Regions from separate parts of the Homo sapiens genome. Here regions 2 and 3 are each linked to region 1. Evidence: fine-mapped expression QTL. A gene starts in region 1. Each other region holds a variant in brackets. All regions are shown on one strand. Distances are between the middles of the regions. Region 1 holds the start of P2RY2 (purinergic receptor P2Y2). Region 2 overlaps P2RY2 (purinergic receptor P2Y2). Region 3 has its middle 6.8 kb from the start of IUR1.

The links.
Region 2: its variant is fine-mapped to the expression of P2RY2 in whole blood (INTERVAL, PIP above 0.99). The same link has a PIP of 0.9 or more in monocytes after LPS.
Region 3: its variant is fine-mapped to the expression of P2RY2 in whole blood (TOPMed, PIP above 0.99). The same link has a PIP of 0.9 or more in T cells and monocytes.

What each region holds. Positions count from the first base shown.
Region 1 is chr11:73,213,537-73,221,710 of GRCh38, reverse strand. P2RY2 (purinergic receptor P2Y2) reads right to left here and starts at 3,430. Exons shown (of 3, transcript NM_002564.4): 1 at 3,279-3,430. It overlaps LOC124902709 (a long non-coding RNA gene), which reads left to right and starts at 3,518. Exons shown (of 3, transcript XR_007062773.1): 1 at 3,518-3,684; 2 at 5,672-5,868; 3 at 6,523-6,855. RefSeq lists enhancers at 2,159-2,877, 2,878-3,596 and a silencer at 3,310-3,519.
Region 2 is chr11:73,238,516-73,246,689 of GRCh38, reverse strand. It overlaps P2RY2 (purinergic receptor P2Y2), which reads right to left. Exons shown (of 3, transcript NM_002564.4): 3 at 4,263-8,174. Among named protein-coding and RNA genes, the nearest start is that of P2RY2, 24 kb to the right of the region's middle. RefSeq lists enhancers at 3,588-3,827, 3,473-4,219, 5,618-6,368. The variant C/T (reference allele first, on the strand shown) is at 3,781.
Region 3 is chr11:73,185,566-73,193,739 of GRCh38, reverse strand. No RefSeq gene overlaps it. Among named protein-coding and RNA genes, the nearest start is that of IUR1, 6.8 kb to the right of the region's middle. The variant C/T (reference allele first, on the strand shown) is at 4,264.

The sequences.
Region 1 (8,174 bases):
CCTCAGGACCCAAGGACAACCAAGAGGAGGTGTGGCCCAGAGGGTATAGCAAGCAGGCCTACAGAAAGCAGTTTGGGGAGAGGCGGTTTGGGTGGAAGGCATGAGGGGCAACCCCCACTCCCCTCACCAGATCAACAAGGCATCTCTGGTCCCGTGGGCAGGTCTGGGCAGGCGTTACCTTATCAGCAGTTGGGTAATCTGGCCACAAGAAAGCCCCAAACACAGGTTCCCAGGGCAGAATTCAAACTCCCCTCAGCCTGGAAGCCAGAGGACCAGGCCTAACCCTAACAGGGCTCTGTCTCAGATGGGGAGGGCTAAGCTGGCAGGTGGACTGGAGCCCCAGGTTTCACCTCAGCTTGGTGACCCTGGGCAGGATACAATCCATGCCTCTATTTCCTGATCTGCAAAATGGAGATACAATTCCTCCCTCACAGGGCTATAGGAAGACAAAATGGATTGTTGTAAATCGTTACTAGTGAAGCCATCTCTGCAGAGGGGGTGGGGGAGGAAGGCATTCAGTAATCAAATTTCAATAACAAGCACAATCCCTTGCTATTGCACCCATGTTCTCTTATAGTCTTCAAAATGGATTTAAGTCTACAAGTGTCACATTCCTCCTCTGAGCACTGCAGTTTAAGGCTTATAAAGCTCTTCCCTGGTCACTATCTTAATCCTCGTAGCAACTCTGCTCTCAAAGAAGCAAGGATCACCATTCTCAATTTACAAATGGCAGAACTGACACCTAGAGAGGGACAATGGCCTCTCTAAAGACTATAGCCATTAAGTCAAAGCTCTCATGGGGTCACTCATGAGGCCCTGGTGATACCCTCACACCTTCTTAGCTGGTCCTTGGGGGATCCACAGCCTTAGAGCCCCATGCATCCAGGGCAGGAGGGAGACAGAAACAGAGGAGTCACAGCCTCACTCCACAGCCCAAGCTTGGTAGTCATTTCTGAGGGTTGCCCACTGGGATCCCCAACCCCTCTGACCAGACTCCAAGACAGCCCAAGGCAGGGAGAAGAGGAGAAAGAGCGACAAGCCTTTTGTGCCAGAGCCTCCCCACACACATACTCTCCCATGCAGGATCTTACTTGTTCTGGCCTCCTTTTAGAGCCTGGCAGGGCAGGAACTGGTCATTCAACCAGCTGGGAACAGAGCTGGGATGAGATCAATTGCAGGTCCCCAAATTCCTCAGCAGGAGCATCTGAAGGCTCAGGGAAAAGTGTTTGGCCAAGGGGCAAGGGCTCAATTAGGGTTCAAACAACTCCTGGGACAGTTCTAGTGTTGACATCACAAATGCCCTGACCTCCCTGCACTTGGCAATACTTGATCCATTCTCCATCCTGCAGCCAGAGAGCGCTTTCTGAAATGCCGCTCTGACCATGAAACACCTCTGCTCATAAATTTCCATGGCTCCCTATTGCCTTCAGGATAAAATCTCTAGGTCTTTAGCCTGGGCACTCTAGGTCCTACAGTGTCCCAGATCACACTGTTCTGGCAAACTGTGCCACCCACTTTGATAACCAGATTCTGGTTTGCCCTTCTTTGTAGTGACATGGAGCTCCCCTGCAGCCGGGCCTTTACTGGAGAAGCTGGTGCCAGAGACAGGGGATGGGCGCCACTGCTGCTCTCTCAGTTCAGCTCAGCCCTGTGCAGGGTGCTGGCAACACAGAAATAATAAGACCCAGTTTCTGCCCTCCAGGAGCCCCTAGACCTGGGAAGAGGAAAGGAGGAGACAGACATAGATCATGACGGTTCAGGTGGGACCAGGGCTGTCAGCCCCAGGCCTGTAGGGGCCTAGAAGAGGCTCCAACCCAGCTGTAGGGATCAAGGAAGGCTTTCCAGAGGAGAGGACATCTGAGCTGGGTCCCAAGTCTGGGTAGTTCTCCAGTTGAGGAAGGTGAGAGTAGGAGGGCTTATCAGAGAGGGAGTGTAGAATATGCAACAGGCCAGGGGCAAGAAATGAGAGACTCCAGGCAGCTGCTGCAAGGTAAAGAGTCAGGCGGGAGAGGTGGCTGGAAAGGCTGGCAGGCCCCAGTTATCAAATACCTTAAGTCCCAGGCTACAGGGTTCAGGCTTGGTCCTGTGGAAGGCTTGTGCCCTAGGGAGGGGCACAGTTGGGATTCTGGTTCTGGGAGGCTCCTTCCAGGGACTGACTTCCCATCCCCAAGCTGTGAGCCTGCCCATGGGGGGACACTGGTGCTGAACATGACACACTCATCAGCTCCTCAACAGCCCTCAAATTCCTTATCATTAGTCCCTTCTTACAGACGAGGCCACTGAGGCTCAGAGAAAGGACGGCTTGCCCAGGCCACACAGTGGCCAAGACAGGATTGGAACATAGATCTCTGAGTCTCCAGAGCTCTCTTGTGGACCTGTCTGCTCAGAGAATCTTCTTCCTTCCACTTCCACCCACAGGTAATAAACTTGCCTGGGTCTCCACCCAGATCCTCAAAACTCATAATTATTTCAGCTTAGATCCAAAACAAACCAGGCAGATCAGGCTGTGGTCCTGGGAAGCTGGGGATGCCATGCTGAGAGGAACAGCAGCCATGGACCCCACAAATCCCGAGCTGGCAATTCTGGTCTCCAGCAGTCCCCAACCCTTGGGCTGCGCTCCTGGAGGACCCCAAGAGGGCCACTGGCAGCCTTCGGGTTGGGGGGTGGGGTATCGCCTTTCTCCTGACTGACCCTTTCTACCGCACCATTTGCCAGATTAAAAGCCCGGGGACAGAGGCTTAACTGTCCTTTCTGGCCACTCCCTCCTCCCCCGCCCACTCCCTGCAACTGCCCCCTCAACATTACCAATGGTAGGTGGCCACCCAGAGTGACCCTGGGGTTAGGACAGTGGTAGGGGGTCTCCAGGGGTTCGCGTCTCTGGGCACCGGCCACCGCCTCACGCCACGGGGACGCTCACATCGGAGCACACACAGACAAGTTCCGCAGGCTTGGCCAGTCGCCCCGAGGGGCGCACACACTCACCCGCTAACACGCAGACCTCCCCAGTACGCTGACGCGCACAGCCTCACTACTGGGGCGCCCGTCCACACTCACCGAGACCGACGCTCCCGTGGAGACAAAGTTCAACCACGGACCCACAGGCGCGTTCAAGCCGTCCAGTTATGCGCTACACGCCGGCTCGCAACTGTGCCCCGGGGCGACAGCCGCTCCACAGCGCCCTCCCCTGCCCCGCGCCCAGTCCGCACCTGCGCCAGTCTGGCCCGCCGCTTCCCCGGGCCTCTCCCAGCGCCTTGTTCCCTCCAGACGCCCCACCCCACCTCTCGCCACTGCGCTGCGCTTCTCCTCTCAGGGTGCCGTCGCCGCCGCTCCCGGGTGCCAGTGCCCGGGTCCCGCCGCAGCCGCAGAGACCCACGTGCCTGGGAGCCCGGCTACCCACCTCCCTGCGCTGTTCCCCAACCCCGAAGCCGGGCCAGGCAGGGGGCGGGGCGGACTTTTGACTGACCCTGGCACCGCCCTCAACCCGCCCGGGTAGACACCGCGCCACCCGCTCCGGGACGCCGCCCAGCGACAAGGCCGCGGGGTCAGCGTGTCTGTACCGGTGCTGCAACGGGAGGGTCGGGCGGCGACGCTCTCACTGCCGGGCCAGAAGGAGGCCTCCCGGCTCCCTCACGCTAGAAGGGAGCTGGTTACCAGAGGTTTTCAGAGACGCCAAAGTTTTGCCAGGTCAGCCCGGTGCCTGCGTGGCCCACTGCGGGACCTTTGCGCCCAGCCACCGCGCCACCCTACCCCTGTCCCGCCCCTGCCCCAGCCCGGCTGGCCAGGAAGGGACCTACTGGGAGATACCTGCTCGGAACCCCAGGCTAAGGACGTACCTCCCTTGCTTGAAAGTGGGGGAAGGGGGTGCCTCTCTCCATTACCGTGGTTAGGAAAGCAGGGTACTCAGGATCCCGCCTCTCCCGTGCTCCCCACTTTCCCTGCCTTAATCTTATCAGCAGCTCCCTGAACTCCCCACTCTGGCCCCTTATCTTGAGCTGCTTTACCTCTCTTCTCTGTCGTCAACCCCACTCTAATGGCCTTCCCTGGTCGGGCTACCGGCTGCATGTCTGACCCGTTCGGAGACTGTGAGCTCCCGAGGGCAGGAACCAGGTCTGCCTTCTTCCTGCTGCTGTCCTAGAGGTCCTGGGAGGTGCTCAATCCTTGAAGGTGTGAATGGATGAATGAATGAGCACCCCGCCTCTCTCTCATTTCTGGTCTAGGAATCAGGAGTGTAGGTTCCTGTCTGGCTTCAGCACTGACTCTGGGAGACCTTGACCCAGTTCCATTCCCTGGCAGGGTCTTCTTTCCTGTGAAATGGAGCCAATCGCTCCGCTGGCTGGACAAGTGCAGAGGAGGCCTCTTCCTGTAGCCAAGGAACTTGCCCCGGGCCTTCGGGGCCTTGGGCCCTCTTGGGCTCCATATCAGCTGACTGGGCCTGGCTGCCAGGAAGGGTGCTGGCTGCAGCCCCACCAGGAGCAGTAGCAGAGTGGACACACAGCCCATAGTGGCTGAGCCGCCTCTGCAGTCCTGCTGGGGCCTTTGCTTGGGAGACACAAAGGCCCCTTGTCTAGCCTCCTGCGCCTATTGTCTAAGCTGGGCCACGCACCTTCCAGGGACCTAAGTATCCTCATAGCCCGAGTTATAGGGCCTAGGCCTTCAGGTTCCAGTGTGGGGAAGACCCTTTGGGCACTGGAACTCCAGCCAACCCTCTCTTTCTCTCCCCTCTTCCAAAACTTCAAACCTTATACTGTCACTGCCATTTAGCCCAGGAGAAACAAGTTTCTTTGACGCCAAGTTGAGGACCCAGGCTCGACCTTAGCCTTCAGCGGGCAAATCTGGTTGGTGGCCTGCCCAGGGCTCTGCCCCTGCTCTGGCCCAATTCCCTTACTTTACAGCTGAGGAAACTGCATTCCTGAGACATACAGCGTTTCAGCTACCACACAGGTGACTTAGTGAGGCTTGAGGAGCAGAGGAAGGGGCCTAGTCCTTGAACCCCATAGCCTTGGGTTTAGATTCCAGTCTTACCTCACCTGTCCTATGACTCCTCTCTGAGCCTGAGTTTCCTCTTTTGCAAAAGGGAGTAATACTAATCTCTCACTTGCTGGCCTGTCTTAAATTTTTTGAGAAAGGGCCTCACTCTGTCACCCAGGCCGTAGTGCAGTGGCATGATCACAGCACACTACAGTCTCTATGTCCCAGGGCCAAGGGATCCTCCCATCTCAGCCTCCCAAGTAGCTGGGAATACAGGCACATGCCACCATGCCGGGCTAATTTGTAAATTTTTTGTAGAGATGGGATCTCCCTGTGTTGACCAGGCTGGTCTCAAACTGCTGAGTCCAAGCAGTCCTCCTGCCTCGGCCTCCCAAAGTGCTGGGATTCCAGGCATGAGCCCCTGCACCCTATCCTTAAATTCTTTTTTCATGGTTTTATTCATCATCCCAAGCTGTCTGGGCTCAAGGCGTTAGTATCCCATGCAATGAGGGCCTAGAAGTTTCGTCTCCTGACATCCTCCCCAGGCAGTCCCATCGCTGGGTTTCAGAGGCCATCAAGCCCAGCAGGCTTCAAATCCCCCAACAGAGTCCCCCTTACCTGGGGCTGCCTGGGGAACTCCCATCCCACTTCAACTTGAGCACCTTTGCCTTTGTATTTTTATTTATTTACATTTCCTGGTAAGAATTTGTTGCAAGCACATGAAAGATTTTGTGGCTGAAGTAATGTAAAACCATTGATCAAACCGGAAATTGAGACACAGCCAGCGTCACACAACAGGCCATCTGAAAGGCTGGAATAGCATCGAGGGAGTCTCCCTGGAACCAAGCAGCCAAGGCAGGCTAATGGTGAAGGCCCAGGCACAGTAATGGTCCCCTGGAGGTGGGTAATGGAACCATGGGGGCGGGAGGAGGGTTCCATTAGCAGTAGCAGATCAGGAGGGGAAGGGCAAAGTTCCAGCCTCAGCTTCTCCCATGTATTAGGAGGCTTCCTGTCTCTCCAGCCCTGAGGAGGTATTTGGCTCATTCAGGCCTTTTCATCCTCCTTCTCTCAACTTCTCTCATTGCCCCTGGGAAAACTTGCTCTGAAAATGCATGCTGGGGATGAAGCCTCTGCCCTGGCCCAGGCTCCAATCCCCCCTTCCCAGGGTACAGTGGTGTCTCTGTTGCCCCTTGATGCCATACCCTGCCTTACACTCTCTGGTGGCTCCACCATCCTCTGGATAAAGCCTAGCTCTCTAGCCTGCCACTCCAGCCTCCCTGCCTCTCTGCCTCACCTCTCACCTCTGACCAGCCTCCTGTTGCCTCTTGCTGCTCCCTCTGCCCACAGTGCCCCCTGCTTCTGGCTCCCCACCATGGGTCCTCGAAGACCCAGGCCAGGTGCCCCACCACTTACCATGCTGTTATTGCTATCACTGCCTGTCTCCCCCTCTAACAGGGATCTCTCTGAGAGCAGAGCCAGGTTCCATTCTGTTCACAATTAAATGGCCAACACCTAGCACTGTCCCTGAATAATTTTTCTTTTTTTTTCTTTGAGATGGAGTCCTGCTCTGTCATCCATGCTGGAGTGCAGTGGCGTGATCTCAGCTCACTGCAACCTCCGCCTCCTGGGTTCAAGTGATTCTCCTGCCTCAGCCTCCCAAGTAGCTGGGATTACAAGTGTGCACCATCACACCCTGCTGATTTTTGTATTTTTAGTAGAGACAGGGTTTCACCATGTTGGCCAGGCTGTTCTTGAACTCCTGGCCTAAAGCGATCCACCCGCCTTGGCCTCCCAAAGTCCTGGGATTACAGGCGTGAGCCACCGTACCTGACCCCTGTCCCTGAACATTTGTCACAATATATTATGAGTGAATGAGTAAGAACTCTATTTTAGTGGTCACCTTCTTTGTGCTAGTCATTAAGTTTAAGGTATCTCGCTTAATATTCTCCAGAACCCTGTGAGATAGGCATTATTTTATTCTCATGTGACATGTAGAGAAACAGGTTCAGAAAGGGGAAGCGAAAGTCCAAAGCAGTGAATCTGCGGTGGGTCTCCTGGCCCCAGAATTGCAGCCTGATGGGAAGGAAGGCCCTGCTGAGTTCCCAGAGTTATGGCTGGGTCATGGCATTGGGACCCACACTGGCAGCTCCAGTTACACAGGGCTGGGCTGGCTCTAGCAGCCTTGTCTTACTTGCTCCCTGAACTGCTGCATTGACCTGCACCATCCTCCCTTCCCTTGCCAGCCGAGAACTGTGCTCCTCAGGTTTCCTGGGCAGGGTCCAGGGCTCTGATGCCAAACGCAGCCTGGAAACTCTAGCTCTCAGCATGCCAGGATGCGGGCACCCAAGTGAGGCCGCCTGGGATGCAGGAAGCTTAGTCCAGGCCTGGGCATGCCTCTGTTCCATCTCCCCTCAAGCAGGACCAGCTACTTAATCTGCGGGACCCAGAGCAGAATGAAAATGTGGGCCCCTCATTCAAAAATTTAAAATTTCCAACAAAAGAATGAAAAAATAAGAAAAAATTAAGAATTTCAAGATGGTGATAGCAGAGTATTTAACACTTCAAATCATGACCCTTACTGTCCAGGTCACATGCCCACAAAGTCAGCCCTGTCGTCAGGCCTTGGTTTCCTTGTCTGTCAAGTGGGAGAATGGTAGCCACTGGCCAAAAGGGTGAGGGTGAGAATGAGGTGGGAGCTGGTGGTAAGAGGTCCAGTGAACAGCATGAGGATGAGGTAAGAGTCTCCAAGTTCATGATTTGTTATCTGGGTCTCAGCACCGGGTGGCAGGCCAAACTCCTTGCCAGGAGTTTGATTGCTTACAACAGCTCTTTTTCACAGAACCAAAAAACTAAAAATCCATGAAGCAAAGTAACTTGCTCAGGGTCACACAGAGACTCAGTGGGGGAAGCCAAGATCAGAGTTCTGGCCTGGCTCTCTTCGAAGCTGGTGCTTTTTGTGACCCAGGCAGGAGAGAGAGAAGCGCAGGAGGGAGGTGGGATGGGGACAGGCTGCTCAGGACAAAGAGGGCCACTGTGCAGACACAAAGACCTGACCACAGAGGCCCCTCTGGGGGCTGGGACAGACAAATGGATGGAGCCCTGTGACTCTATCTGTGGTGACTGGGGTAGCTGCCAGGAGCTGCCTCCTAGACCCTACCTGGTTGTGATGAGGGTTGGGGAGGGTGTTGGTGTGCAGGAACCAGGAA
Region 2 (8,174 bases), 25 kb before region 1:
TCTCCGGAGTGGCAGAGGCAGAAGAAAATCTGCATATATGTGGACCCATGCAGTTCAAGCCCATGATGTTCAGGGGTAACCGTACTTGTAATATGATTACAAAGACTGCTTCAGATTTCTTTAGAGTTAGTTCTCTTTGTCCTTAGAATATGTCCTTCTTAGGAATGTACAGTGAGGCAGTTATTAATTCCAGGAAAAACAAAAAGTTATGCAAGAAAGAAAATATAAACATAGAATGCCCTAAGATGTCACTGTGAGCAACATTTTTGACATCATAAAAATGGAAGCACTGAATATTTAATCAAAAATTGCAATGGGAGAATGAGAGAAGGAAGAGAACTAAAGCCTCATTTCACAAAAGGAAACCAGTATATAATGTCTAAAATGGAAGAAACCGATTTTTAAAAATGGTCTGAGTTTGATACTGACATGAAAGTTTTCTTTTTCTCCAGTCGAATTTAAATTGCCACTCATTTCCATCACACGGAATTTACACTCACTCCTCTTCTCTGCTGCCTCCCAGCCACCCTTTTTGACTCCAGCTCAGGAAATGGAGACATCTTTTTTTTTTTTTTTACTGAAGTGGGATTGTTATTTAAATGTTCTTTGGGTAATCCTGTTCCCTGGACAACCCTGACTTGGACAGTGTCCCCTAGGGCAGACCCTCCAATTCAGGTTGGATCTCTTGCCAGGCAGATGTGTGAGTTCTCTGTGGCAGTAGCTCAGGCAGGCTGAGGGAGGGGTGGCGATTAGCGCGCTCCTTCAGCTCCTTCACCGAGGAGGGGATTTGAAGTGAATCTTGGAGGAGGAGACACATTTCAGGTGAGCAAGGAAGTCAGAAGGATTCTGTAGACGCAGGGACAGCATAGGAAAGGCAAGGTGCCTGGAAGGGATTCTGCAATACATCCAGTATTCCACAATACACGTGTTACTCCTCAGGGACACTGTTCAGTCACTCTGGTTTTTCTGGCCGCCCAAGATGTAGGGCCATTTCCTAATCTATTTAATAATAGGCATATCATTTGGCGTCTGCTCAGCTCAGCCCACGGCCTTGGAACAAATGGACCCAATTAAAAGGCCATCATAGGGGAATTCAAGGGAAGAGGAAAAAGCCATTGATCAAATCAATGCTCAGTTGCCCTGGGGCTGGTTTGTGACCAGCTATGCCAGAGTCCTTCCCCCTATCCTCTCCCAGATGCTGTCCTAGACCTGAGGACCTTCCCGCCACCCTGGTCCCATCCTCCTCTCCTCCACCCCCACCCACTGACTAGCTGTGTGGCCTCACACTACATCTTCTCTAGATCTCAGGGTCACTGTCTACAAAACATTGTAGGCATCCTCTGCACCCCCTCTTCTTTTATCACCTCCTTCCATCCAATCCATAAAGGATCCCATTCACTCTTCCTTCAGAATACATCTGGCATTGGTCCACTTCTCCCCACCTCCATTGCTACCACCTGGTCCCAGTCCTCAGCCTGAGCTCTCACCTGGATTTCTGCAACAGCTCCTCCCTGTAGTCATTACTTCTGACCTTGCCCCACTGTGGTCTATTCTCAGCACAGCAGACAGACCAATCCTTCTAAAATGTAAGTCAGATTCTGTCTCCTCCTCAGACCTTGCATGGCTTCCCTTCTCATTCAATGTCCTACCAGATCTCCCCCGACCTCTGGCCTCCCCTCCTCCCCTCCAGGCCCACTCCACCCCAGCTGCAGGCCCTAGGGCTTTGCACTTACTGGTCCCTCTTTCTGGGAGCTCTTTTCCATTTGGCTAACTCCCACACCTCCTTCAAGTATTTGCCCAAATGCCTCCTTTTCACCCAACCACCCTATTTAAAATTGCAACCTTCATGTCCTCACAATCCCTCTTCCTGTTGTTTTTTGCCTCCTACAGAGCTTGTCACCTTTTAACACACCATATAATTTACATTCTATTATGTTCACTGCTTATTATCTCTCTCCCCCTACTAGAATGTGAGCTCAAGGGCATCGTCTTTGTCTTTTTTTTTTTTTTTTTTTTTTTTTAAAGAGACAGAGTCTCGCTGTGTCTCCCAGGCTGGAGTGCAGTGGCATGATCTCGGCTCAGTGCAACCTCTGCCTCCTGAGTTTGAGCAATTCTTCTGCCTTAGCCTCCCGAGTGGCTGGGACTACAGGCGCCTGCCACCACACCCAGCTAATTTCTTTTGTATTTTAGTATAGACGAGGTTTCACCATGTTGCCCAGGCTGGTCTCAAACTCCTGAGCTCAGGCAATCTGCCTGCCTCGGCCTCCCAAAGTGCTAGAATTACAGGCGTGAGCCACCACACCTGGCTGTCTTTGTTTTTTTAATTCACTGATGATTTACGGACATTACACAGAGCAGTACCTGGCACATAGTAGGTACTTACTAAATATTTGTTGAATAAATGAATGAATGAGTGGGTGATAATAAGGTTCCTGCCTCAAAGGGCCATTGTGAAACTTGTAAAATAATTAATTTATTTCCTTTGCAAAGGAAAGGAATGTGCCGGGCACTGATGGGCACGGAGGATAAAGCAGTGACCAAAACAGATCCCTGCCTTTTGGGAACTTTCATTCTAGCAAGGAGAAACAGCATAAATAAACTATGATGTGAGTATGGTTACCATCCCCCCCCACTTTTTTTTTTTTAATTTGAGATGGAGTCTCGCTCTGTTGCCCAGGCTGCAGTACAGTGGCACAATCTCGGCTCACTGCAACCTCCGCCTCCTGCCTCCCGGGTTCAAGGAATTCTCCTGCCTCAGCCTCCCAGGTAGCTGGGATTACAGGCACGTGCCACCATTCCCAGCTAATTTTTGTATTTTAGTAGAGATGGGGTTTCACCATGTTGGCCAGGCTGGTCTCAAACTCCTGAGCTCAAGTGATCCACCCGCCTCGATCTCCCAAAGTGCTGGGATTACAGGTGTGAGCTGCCATGCCCGGCCAGTTACCCCCTTTGTTTATGATGAGAAAACAGGTACCCAAGGTCGCCTGATTGATGAGTGGCAGAGCTGGGATTCAAACGCAAGTCCCTCTGACTCCAGGATTTGTGTGCTTTCTGTGCTGTGAATGAGGGCATCTGGGTTTATGTGGAGTAAAAGCTTGTGGGTGAGAGGTGTGCAGAGATCTGAGAGGACGGCTTAGGAGGCTGGCTGAGGCTTCCCATCTTACCTCTGCTTCTGGATCCACACAAGGACCCCGAACTCAGGCCTCCCTTTCCACATGACTTCCACAGGAGTCAGACACATCTTACCTACGGACATGCTGGTGGGATCCAAATTACAGGCATCTCAGGTGTGGTGGATGAACCCCAACTTCTTCCCAGATGGAGTTCCTGGGAGAACCGGCTGTGCTAGTCACACTTCTCCGGGGCATGGAGTGCAGTTTTGAAGGCTGTCCTGTGAGAAGACAAGGACTTCTAGGGGCGTGCGGAGGGCAGGGGTCTCTGGTGAGGATGGGGTTACCGGAGTGGGGTAGAAGAGAGAGTTAGGGGTGCCCATTCTTTGGAAAGAGCATGGTTACACCCTTCCATGTCCTTCCACGGCTGCCCTAGGCAGATGTGCTGTGTCCCTGAGTCTGAGCTGGGGAGGCGCAGGACCCTGTGAAGAGTGGTCTTCCACAGGAAAAGGGATTGCTCAGCAGGGAATGATCTCTACCCCTGGCTGGGGTGCAGGAGACGGACATCATGGTTTGGGCCAGGCACCGTCACCTTGTTGGCAAGTCAGGGCATGTTGGCAAGTCACTGTATGCAAATTGTGTTCTCTGTTTCAATTGTCAGCTCTCCCCC[C/T]GGACCCTCACACTCAACAGCCTGGCTGCAGCCGGATCATTTTCTTATCACCCCATAGGCGAAGGTCTGGATCCCAGCCCCCGTTTCCTGCCACTGCTGCCAGCTTTGGCCACCAGGGGGAAGCAGAGCAGCACCAACCAACCTGGGGCCCTTCGTAGACTAAACAGCCAGGGCAGAGCACAGAGTGGACTGTCCCTGTCCGCCTCCCTTTGCTCCCAAGGATTCTGGGGACAGGGAGCAAAAGGGGAGGGTGATGGGGAGTGGGGAGGGAAAGGGAGTTAGAGTGGGAGGGAGGGAAGGAGAGGGGGTGCCACAGAGCTGGCAGCTGGACCCTCTCTCCATTCCCATCTCTTCCTGCCATTCCACTTCCACTTCCGGGGTTTAGTCTGACTCCTGGCAGCCCCTTGTTGCCCCCCTCTGGCCTGGCTGCCCACCTGCAGCCCTTCTGTCTCTGAGTGTCCACTTGGTACCTGCCAGGACTGCCCCTCGCCCCTCACCATCCTCCCTGGAACATGTGATCATTCAACACACACATAAACACACGTGCACACACACAGAGACAGCACACACTGTGTGGACTAAGGTGGCAGGCTTTTAATTTCCTCCCCCACGTTTTACAATTGCTTTGGTCACAAAGGCAGGTCTAACAGTTTAATTCCACGCCAGAGAGGAGGGGACTTTTCATGTGGCTGCTGATTTGGAATTTGGTTCCAGGACATAAATCTGAGGACACATGGGGTAAAATAGCCCGCTTTCTAAAGAAACCTGGAAACAACTGGGGTAAGACATCTTCTCAGGGTTCCTTGCCCCAGCTCTCTACACACCCCACCTCACTCTACACGCTGAACCCTGGGCACCATGGATTCAAAGACATCTTTGCCACTGTGAGATCTCAGCCAAGTGTGGGGTGTGGGGTGGGAGGGGGACAGGCTTCCACATCCCCAGCAGGGTGTGCAGGAAAATCACTCAGGGAGACCAGGGTATCAGTCAGAGTCCCAGCAGGAAAGACGTTGCACACTCTAATCAGGTCATTTTGGGATAGCTTAGCGGAGAGACTGTTTTTACAAAGGTGTGGACTGATGTTTGGAGAGTTCTGTGCAGGGGGCACTGATGGCCCAGGAAGCAAGGTCAGCAAGAGAGGGCTGTAGCATCACCAGGAAAGACACATTGGTCCCTTTCCTCCCCACCCTGCCCCAACACCTAGAGGAGAGAGGGACCCAGAAGAGGAGTGATGAAGGTCCTCACAGCATGGGGGAAGAGGACAGGTGAGCATTCAATTAAGCAGGCGATGGAAATCTTAAACCTGACTTTGTTACCCAAAAGTGACTCAAAAGTTTGGAGTTTGCCAAATGCGCAGTTTATGGATGGGAAAGGAAAATCACACGTCACTGAGCAGGGAGCATGGGTGGGAGGAAAATCAAACAGTTGCATGTTTGTGCCTCACTGCATTGTCTCTGTCTAGTAAACCGGGAAAAGAGGTATTGGTATTACCAGTTCAATTTTCCAGATGAAGAAACTGAATTTGCAGTCCCAGAATTGGTGATGGCTGAACTGTGCCAGAGCCCTGCTCCTGCATCAGCTGCCCTGTGGCCCCCACCCTCCCCTTTGCCCCAGAGCTGCTGCTCTGTCACCCTGAGTTCAGTCACAGTCAGCGTGGGCTGCTATAACAAAATGCCACCGACTGGGTGGATTAGAAACAAGAGACATTTATTTCTCACCATTCTGAAGACTGGAAGTCTAAGATCGGGGTGCCAGCATGGTTGGGATCTGGTGAGGGACCTCTTCCAGGTTGCAGACTGCCAACTTCTCATTATATCCTCACATGGTGGAAAGAGGGTGAGGAGCTCTCTGGGGTCCATTCTGTAAGGGCACTAAACCCATTCATGAGGGCTGCACCCTTAGGACCTGGTTACTTCCCAAAGGCCCCACCTTCTAATACCATCACCTTGGCAGTTGGGATTTTGACATATGGATTTGTGGGGCGGGGGACACAAACATTCAGTTCCTAACAGCCACATTTGGTAAAAATGGGACTCAGTGGGGAGAAAGGGTTTAAGGTCAGGCCCCTGCACTGGGCTCACTCCAAGGTCAGAGCATGAGCTGCACCTCTCCACCCACACCACTTGGGCTGCTATCCCAGGTGCCCATCCCAGGAAGCTCAGTGGTGAGCTCTCACCACTGTAGCTCCAGTCCAGGAGCCACAGACTGGAGCTAATGAAGTTGGCTGAGGCAGTGGGAGCAGCCAAAGAGCCCTGGGCTTACACCTAAGCTTCACACTGACTGCTGTGTGACTGGGTAAGGCACAGCCCTCTCTGGGCCACCAGTCCCACTAAGCAGCCAAACAATCCCTGGGGTCCCTGCCAGGAGGGAAAACTCATTCCAACTGGTTGTGTCTCCCAGGAGTCTCACGTGATGTTTCACAATGGCCTTCAGGAGTTAAGAGCCCCAGGAAATGACATCAGGGTGGGGAGGTAAGGAGCAGGGCCAGGAGGTGAGGAGCAGGGCAAAGAGGCTTGGAAACTAGGGGCAGGAGATATTTTGGGGCAGGCAGGTCCCCCGCGTCACTGCTGGACAATGGTCCAGGGCAGTCATTGTACTGGGAGTGGAAAATCCTCTTCTGACTCCATCTGCAAGGGCTGAAAATAGTCCAGGGCCGTGGGTGGAGCCCCCAGGGACAGGGGGTGACTGGCCCTGCCTGGCCCATTGTTCCTGGCTGGGACAGGGCTGAGACTGACACCTGAGCTGGAGCCAAGACAGAGGCAAGCCCAGGAATTCCCCCATTGGAGGAGGAGTGGCCAGGCAGAGCCAAGTCCTATCGAAGATGGGGAAAGCGAGGCCCAGAGAGGGACAGTGACTCCCCCAAGTTGCACAGTGCATCAGGGCAGAGGAGGATGAGTTCGACTCGGGCTCAGTTCTCACCCCAACCCTTCACCCCCACAAGCACACCCCTCACTCTGTAGTCTGGTCACTCCTGGCCAAGCCCCACCCTCCACCTTGCAGGAGGCAGGAGCTCCAGACATCGCACTGTGTGGCTCTGTGTGGCGGCAGTGGGGTCACTTCACTTCTCTGGTCACTTGATGCTGGGGAGAAACACTGCCTCCACCCTAGTCCTCAGAGCTGGGGGCCTGGAGGGTCTTGGAAATGCCCGGGGAGCAGCTGTTGGTTGTGCCTTCACTGAGGTGGGGAAATTGGAACAGGGGAACAGGTCTCCAGGCCCTACAGTGCAGTCCAGAGAAGGCAGGCAAGTGACCTCAGGTCACACAGCAAAAACTCCCCATTTGCTGCCTGCCCTTGCCCAGCTCCAGACCAGTCCTCTGCTCCTAGATCTGTGGACTCTTAATGAAGTGAGAGGTGGCTGCAGAGCACCATGGTGGACACCCCAGTCAGGGAGAAATGGCTACCCTGCTGCCGTGGGAGGGTGCGAGCTCTCTAGCCTGAAGTGGCAAGTTTCTGAAGCTTGCTACTAGGGGCCCCCTCTTCCTCCTCTCCATGCTGCCCTCCCACAGCTGGGCACCTGGACAAGGTTCTGTAAACAGCACAGGCCCATGGTCCTGAAATCCACCTACTGCCAAGCAGGGCAGAGGTGGTCCCACACATTCCCCCAGGACAGACCTGCTTCCCTCCTCCCACACCCCACGGGGGTTCCCTGGAGACGTATGGCCCACTGTTGCTCACTGGCCAGACACACTGTCCTCTCCTTCAAAACATGTATCCCAATGTGGTTACGTACTAAGTGATGTCAACTCTGTGAGGGCAGGGCCCAGCTGATTTGCCTCCATAGCCCCCGGCCTGGTGCCAGGCATATAAATGCTGACCACACACCAGGCACTGTGAGGAGGACTTTGTGCGTAATAACGTAGGGAAGCCCCTCAACGCCCTGCATGGAAGGTAGCAGCACACTTTAGAAATGGGAAAACTGAGGTGCTGCAAGATTAGGTAACTTGCCCAAGAGACCCCAGCCAGGAAAGTGGGGACAATATTGACACTGAGGTGGTCTGGGTGGAGCATCTGTGTTCTCACATCCTTGCTACACTGCCTCTGTCATCTTGAATCATGCGAGGGGCCACTTATAGACCCTTCTGCCCTGCAGGGCTGTGAGTGTCGTGGGGCACTATAAAGGGCATGATTCTGGCCATCAGGTGAACCTGGACTCACTCTGACTCACCCTGACAGCCTGGATAACCTGGAACAAGTCCTCACTTCTCACGCCCTTCTCCTGTTTCCTCATCTGCTAAATAGGATCATAGCATCTACTTCCCAGGGCTTCTGTGAAGCATCCACCATATAACATAGATGAGAGGGTGCGTGGGACATGGGTCAATACACGACTTCCCTCCCTCATGTGCCTGATTCTAAACAGAGCAGCCCAAATCTGCCATGACAAGGGTGACAGA
Region 3 (8,174 bases), 28 kb after region 1:
CCCAGTGAAAGGGCGATTCATTCTCTCCTGTTTTGTGATTGTGTGTCTGCCTCCCCACCAGACCGTGTGCTCCATGGAGCAGGGGCTGTGCCTGTCCCGATCACTGTCGGCTCCACTGTCCTAATCACTGCCCAGAGTCTGCTCCAAAGCCTCCTCCAGAGAGGGTGCTCCATTGATTGAACAGCTCCATGAGGAGGAGGGTGACTGACAGCACTCTGGGAACCCAGAGGAGGAAGTCACAACGCTAAAGGATAGCCAAGAAAGGGCTCCTGGCAGAGGCTGTGGGTAAAGTTTGCATAGGATGGAAAGAGGCAGGGCTGGAACAAGCAAGGGTATGGCAGTAGGAATGAGGTTGAGCTTTGCAGGAGTTCTGGGGAAGAGAGGTGGCGAGGTTAGCTGAGTGCAGGCCAGGAAGAGTTCCGGTGCTGCCTCTTGGGGTCTTGGGGTCTCTCTGCCTCTCTACATAGCTCTTAGTTTCCCCTAACCCCAGGGTTCTCACTCCCTCATCCCCCTACCTTCCAACAAATCAAGAAGTTCATGGATAAGGGACCCTGAGGGCAGCAAGGGAGGTGGTGAGAGCTCCAGTTGTCTGAGTCTAAGACCTTCCTCTGATGAAGTCCCAGCTCCAATTACCTTTCCCACCTAGCATGGCCGGAGAAAGTACAAGACGCCCAGTCAAATTTGAATTTCTGATAAACAGTGAAAAATTCTTTAACATAACGGATATTTGGGACATGTGCTTATACTAAAAAGTTATTCATTGCTAATCTGAAATTCAAATTTAACAACATATCCTGTATTGACATTTGCTAAACCTTGCAAACCCTCCCTTGACCCCCGCTTTTCAGCATCTGTCATTCACCCCTGCCCTGAGCCCCCAGGAACCATCAGAGGTTGTGGGCCTCCTGCAACATACTCAACGAAACAGAAATTCAGAGCTGCTAGGAACACTGAAGCTTATCTAGCCCCATTGCTCCCCACTATAAGTGGACTAGGAGGCCGAGGCCCAGAGGAAGCAGGCACTGGCAGGTCCTTGGGCACCTCTCAACAACTTGACTGGAACTTGGGCCTTCATGACAGCAGGAGGACCCTTGGCTGGGGGCTTCTTAGGAAAGGCCAGGGCCCTCCTATTCATCATTCTGGGGCAAGGCAAGGCAGGGAGTCTCCAGGTTTCTGCCCTGACCCTGGGCTGTGGTTTCCTGGATCTTGACACCCCCAAGTGAGTCACCTCCACCTCCCAGGCTACATCTGACTCAGTGCCAAGGCCCTGGGGCTCCTCAGCTCTTACCTGGCTCCCAGGTTGGAGGAGCCAAGTGGGCAGGTTGGGGTGGCTCTTGGGCAGGACTTTGTGGGAGGGACTAGACCTTGTGAGAGGCTCATTTCCCCACAGTCCTCCTCAGGCCCTGGTAATGGTCCAGTCAAGGGCAGCCCTCAGAAACTCCCAATGGTGCGGCTGGGTGCAGTGGCTCACACCTGTAATCCCAGCACCTTGGGAGGCAGAAGCGGGCAGATCACTTGGGGTCAGGAGTTCAAGACGAGCCTGGCCAACATGGTGAAACCCCGTCTCTACTAAAAATACAAAAGTTATCTGGGTGTGGTGACGGGAGCCTGTAATCCCAGCTACTTGGGAGGCTGAGGCAGGAGAATTGCTTGAACTCGGGAGGTGGAGGTTGCAGTGAGCCAAGTTCGCACCACTGCACTTTAGCCTGGGTGACAGAGTGAGACTCTGTCTCAAAAAAAAAAAAAAAAAAAAAAAAAATAGGAACTCCCAGTGGTGCAGCTAGAGCTGAGGAGAAGGTGGAGTGCCTGGTGGCAGGCGGGGTGGGGGTACATGGGTCGGGGGTAGGGACATAGATTTAATTAAAATCACTCAGCCCATCAGGCCTGCAGGGGTCTTCTGTCAAGTGGCCATTCCCCGCTCCCCACTGAAGGTGCCCATCCCTCTGGGCTCTGTTTCTTCCTCTCATCTTTCCATTGTTATGTTATGTATTAGTTTGCTTATTGTCAATGTCTAGTTAGAACATAAATCCTGTTCACTGTTTCAAGATCATAAAACAGTACCTGGCTCAACAAGCTTTGTGGAAATTGCCCTTACTGCATTTCACCTTGTGTGGAACATGGCCCCTGATGCCACAGTCCCCCACCCACCCATGAGCATCTCAGCATCTGCCAGGAGACTGGCTGTGTGCAGAGCTTTGTGTTCCCCCGGTCCAGGTTCCAGTTCCCTCCTCTGATTACAGCCCAGCCTGGGTCCTGGGACTGAGAAAGTAAAAGCACAGGGTTGGGGCAGACTGACAGACAGTGGGTTTAGGGTGCTGCTCAGGGTGGGGCTCTCATCTGCCTGCCCCAGTGCTTCCACCCGAACCACACAAGCCCACAGCACCTAGACGTGGCCCAGGAGCTCAATCCCAGGCCCACACGGAGCTGACCCCTCCCAGCCAGTCGGGCTGAGGGTACAGCACTGAGCCAGAAGCTGATGACCTGTCTGCCTTGACTTGTGACCTGCCAGATCCCTAGGCCTTGCCGGGCCTGGCTCTGTCTGTCTGTACAATGATGGTTCTGGGCTGACTGGTCTCTGAGGCTTGCCAGCTCAGCCCACCCATGGCTTTTTCCTACCCCTTATCTACCTCTAAACCTCTGTGCCAGCCACTCCTGCATTACCCTGGGGGTACTCCTGAGCCAAGGATCTTAGACCCTCCCCTTCACCCTAGTCAGACCCTTTGCTGACCCTTCTCTGGGACCCAAGTCCTGGTCCTATCTGTCTTGGGGACCATAGGCAGTTGGTGCCAAAGACTGTCCCCAGGATACTTGGGATACTTTAAAGTCATCCAGTAAAATGTCATTCAGGGAAAATCTGTCCACATTTACCTGGCTCCAGCCCTCTAATCAATCCTCCTTTGGGACGCCTGCTCCCCTGACATGTCCAAAGCTGATGAACTCTTTATCTTTCCCCAGACCTGCTCTTCCTGTCACAACCTCAGCAAGAGCATCACCAACCAGCCGGTCACCTGGGCCAGGAACCCAGAAGCCACCAAGCCTCCTCTCATTTTCTGCCTGCCCTCCTCCCATCCTTAACTAAATCCTGGCCACCCCTCTGTGCTATCCTGGGGACTGTCCACCTCTCACCTTCCGCTGAACTGCCCAACTTCATCCTTCATCTTTTCCTCCTGAACCTCAAAAGCAGAGGGCCCTTTGACACTGCTGTCTGCCTTCAGTCCATGCTTCATGCAGCAACCAGAGAGGGACCCTGCTGGCCACACACCCAGCCTTGTCACTCCCCTGCTCAAAACCCTTCCATGGTTCCCACTGCCCTCTGGATAAGGTCTGGCTCCTTGGCCTGGCATTCGAGGCCCTCCAGGCTCTGGACCCTGCCAGCCTTATCAGCTCATCTCATGTGGCTGTTCGACTTGCAGCCAAGTATCCTCCAGCTCTCAGCTGTGGCTCACGATGTTCCCTCCACCTAGGAGGCCTCTATTCTTCCACATCTTTAGGTTCCTCCATCCTGAATCATCTGGAGAGTCCGCTCTGGGAATTGACTCCTTATTTAGGGAGGCTGGATAAACAAGGCTTTTCTCAGGCTGCATGTGTGTTTTTAGACTCAGTCAACATTTATCTATTTATTCAGGTACTCAGCCTTTCAAAAAGGATTTGAGGTGGGCTATTCAATATTGATTGTGGGCTACCATGTGCAGCAAAGTCCAGTGTGCACACACACACTCATTCACACACAAGGCCGGGGCACCATGAGAACCAGGAACCAGGCAGAAGCTTGCAAAGGCCTCATGGGGCCAGTGTGAGGATGAGGCACCTGGATTCAGAGGGAGGCCCACCTGGCTCAGGGTAACACAGACAGATATGGGGTTGAGGGTTCAAATCTGAGGTTTTCTGAGCCCAGTTCACAGGGCTGCCCCTGGAGGACTGAAGCCCAGCCCTGTCTTTAGAAAGTTCCTTGGTTATATGTAGAGAGGGGGCTCTGGAAAATTAAACAAAGCCCACCAGACAGCTCACCTCCCCACAGGGTGCTCAGTGTCCCATCTTATTTAGCCCCCTAGGGTCAGGGAGGAAGCAGGAGCTGGAGATGAGGGGAGGATTTGGAAAGACAGAAGGTAGTAACAGAGGCAGCAAAGGCTGCAGGTGGGGGAAGGAGACCCATAGCTTCCCTCCGTGGCCCCTGCTTGCATTTCCCTTCCCTTTCGCCCACGTCAGCTTCAAGATCTGTTCCTCTTTTCTTCTGCAACATTACTGGCTGGGGGCAGGCTGGGG[C/T]GAAGACTGTGGTAGCTGCTCAACCTCTAGGTTCTCATGGGAGAGAACCTAGGCCCCAGCCGAGTGGCGGCCCTGTGGGCACTGCAGACTCCAGAGTTCCCAGCACGCTTTCCGGCCCTTTTCTCCTCCTCTGTACCCCCAGCTAGTCTGTGAGCAGGTATCACCACACCCTTTCCGAGGGGAGGAAACCAAGGACCAGAGCGTTGGTGACAGAGGAAGGACTCCATCCCTTTGTTCTCAGAAGCTAAAATCCTCCCTCTAGAAAGTATCCCAGGTGTGGCTGGGCACGGTGGCTCACACCTGTAATCCCAGCACTTTGGGAGGCTGAGGCGGGCAGATCACCTGAGGTCAGACCAGCCTGGCCAACATGGCGAAAACCCATCTCTACCAAAAATACAAAATTACAAAATTAATAAAAATACAAAATTAGCCAGTTGTGATGGTGGGTGCCTGTAATCCCAGCTACTTGGGAGGCTGAGGCAGGGAGAATTGCTTGAACCTGGAAGGCGGAGATTGCAGTGAACCGAAATTGTGCCATTGCACTCCAGCCTCGGTGACAAAGCGAGACTCATCTCAAAAAACAGAAAGTATCCCAGGTGTCATCTGCTCCTAATCTCTGACAGCCTTGCACAGTAACTGAGTTCAGAAATATGTGTTGGGTTGGCATCAGAGAGGGCCGCTGAGAAGGGGCCTCACCTGTCTGCATCCTCCAGGCATGGAGGCACCAATACTCAGTCTTGATCTCCATGGGCTGTTCTAAATCCTGGGCTCCTCTGCGGTTTCACATACAGGGCATGGGACGTGGAGGTCAGCTCAGTGGGACTCTCCAGGCAGTGGGGAGGGCGGACAGGGGACAAAGATTCTAGTTTCATCTTTTGCAGCCAAAGGTGGGGCTGGCCTGGCCCACTCCTAGGTGACCCTAACTGACCCCAACAGTGAGTGGCTGGGAACTGACCCAGGCTGAGCTGAGGCAGCTGTCAAAGCAGCCCTAAAATTAGCCCCAACAGGGATAGGGAGGGGGGATCTGGCCCAGGCTTCAGGCTCCCATGGCCCCAAGGGACTGAGCCCACACCCCACTCAAGATGGAAGAGGTCAGCCAGAGTTTTGGCAGTGACCTACCCGGAGGCTGGGAGGGGAGATTCACAAGCTAGGATGAACATGGTTCAGAAGGGGGATCGATGGGCAGGAGGCACCCCCTGCTAGTTTCTTGGATCCTATGTGGCTCCCAGCCCCAAGCCCTTCAGAGCCCTGAGAGGAACCAAGGAGAGACTTCACTATTTTTGTTCTCCTAGAACAGGATTGAGGGGGCCAGCCTGTCCTTCCAAGGCTGAACTGGATAACCTCACACCTTAGCATCAACTCCCAAGAGCAGAGGAGGAGCCAGGAGGTGTGTTAGCCTGATTGATAGAGGTGTGGATTGGAGACACCTGGGACAGGCCCAAAGTCAGCCTCATCCTGCCCAGGCATGCAGCTCCACCCACTTTCCTCTGCTCTGCCTTAGTGCTCTGAGAATCTTATTTAAAATGCAGATCCTGGCTGAGTGTGGTACCTCATGCCTATAATCCGAGCACTTTGGGATGCCAAGGAGGGAGAATCACTTGAGGCCAGGACTTTGAGATCAGTCCTGGTAACATAACAAGACCCCACCCCATCTCTACAAAAAACTTTTTAAAAAATTAGCTGGATGTGGCGTCATGTGCCTATAGTCCCAGCTACTTGGGAGGCTGAGGCAGAAGCATTGCTTGATCCTGGGAGTTCAAGGCTGCAGTGTGCTATTGAGTATGATTGTACTACTGCACTGGAGCCTGTCGCTGACAGAGCGAGACCCCATCTCTAAAAACAAAACAAAACAAAATCGGGGCGGGGCGCAGTGGCTCACACCTGTAATCCCAGCACTTTGGGAAGCCGATGTGGGTGGATCACGAGGTCAGGAGATCAAGACCATCCTGGCTAACACGGTGAAACCCCATCTCTACTAAAAAAAAAAAAAAATAGCCAGGCGTGGTGGTGGGTGCCTATTGTCCTAGGAGACAGGAGAATGGCATGAACCTGGGAGGCAGAACTTGCAGTGAGCTGAGATTGCGCCACTGCACTCACTCCAGCCTGGGCGACAGAGCAAGACTCTGTTTCAAAAAAAAAAAAAAAAAAACAAACCAAAACAGATCATGATTCAGAAGAAGATCTGGGGTCAGGTATGAGATTCTTCAAGATTCTAACAAGGTCCCAGATTGGCCCGCAGATCACACTTTGAGCACAAAACTCATTTCCCGGGCAGCTTGGGTGGACCCCAAGGCCAGGGCCCCGTCTTCTCCTATACACAGGTATCCCTACCACAGGTAACCCCAACTCCCATCTTCAGTAGAGCCTGGCATGAGCATATGGGCACCCAGTATACTAGGTGGCTGGCTGGTTTATTGTGGGTTCCTGCATGGGCAGTAGGTGTGTGTGGTAATCCCCGGGCCTCTGTGTCTACTGCATGTCTCTTGTTACATGTGTAAAAAGTGTACAAAGATGCACATATACAATAATGATGAAATAAAAATAGCTAAAGTTTAAAAAGTAGATAATCTTTATTGAGCACTATGCCCAGGGAAGGTACTAGAAATGTTACACTCAGTATCTTATTTAATTCTCATAACAACCCCTGTGAGATGAGAAAACCGAGGCTCAGAGAGGTTAAGTGACTTGCTCAAGGTCACACAGCTGATAAGCAGCAGTAAGGACTGGAATATGCATGTGCACCCGTGCACCCAGTGCGCCCATCTTGGTGCATGTGAGCTTGTGGGCATGTGTGCTGTTGAGTGGGCACAGGTGATGCAGGAGGTGAGCAGCCGCAAGGATGGGGTGGGCGGGGTAAGAGCCATGCACAATGATTCAGAGTGTGAGCTTTCCGCAGGTAGGGAGACAGGAGACCCAGGTGGAGGGAGATGCAGGCAGGAGCCAGCAAGTCTGGGCTTGAGTCTTCATACTGCAGGGCCAGCTTTGACTTCCTCCTTTGTGAAATTAGTGTGATAATATTTGCCTCACAAGGCTCTGCTGTGAGAAAGAAACGCAATAATAACGCAAAGTGTGCCACGCGGGCCTGCCTGGCACACAGCAGGCACTCAAGATGTGTGAGCTGGCCCTTCCTTCCCCTAGGGACTGAACTGCTTGGGAGTGACTTGTGCCCTGACTGGTAGCAGCCAGCTCACTGGATTAAAGGAGGCATCCTGGGGAGGGCTGGGGACAAGTGGTGAAAAGGCATGGAGCGTGGAGTGGGTTGCAGCTGAGGGAGCACCCAGGGAGGGACGGACATTTGAACAGAGCTCAGAGACTGGCCCACCACCTTTCCCTTGGCAGAGACAGGAGAAGCTGCAAGGCTGGAGATGCCCCAACTCCGGAGAAGTCCTCTCAGGAAAGCAAACACCCTGTCCCTTGACTCAGCCCTCAGCTATGCCAGACACATCAGCCCTCACGGTCCTGCAGGCCATGCCCACTGGAGACCAGATCTCCTCTGGGCCGGGCCGGACATCGTTTAGGCTGGGCCTTCGGAAGTGCCCAGTGACTCACTTACCCTTCCTCCATCCACAACCCGATCTTGCTCCTGGAGCTGGAGTCCCCTGAGGCTGCCCACACGTGGGTGGCTCCCAGAAGGTGGAGCTGTGAGGCATCATGGGGCAGACCCTTACCCCTCAGCAAGTCCGCTGCCTAAGTCCCTCCTCGTGGGTGGTGAGCTGCCTCCTGCAGGGCTCTGTAACAAGCAGGTGGTTGCCTGGGTGGGTGTCAGTCTCCCCTGGGACCCGGAGTGGAGGGGCACCCAGGTGGATCCCCCAGGCCATCCAGAAGCAGGTGCTGGGAGTGGAACCCCAGGCACACAGTTGCCGAGAACTGGCTTGCCGTGGGAGGCTGGATTGAAGTGCTGGAGGACCAGA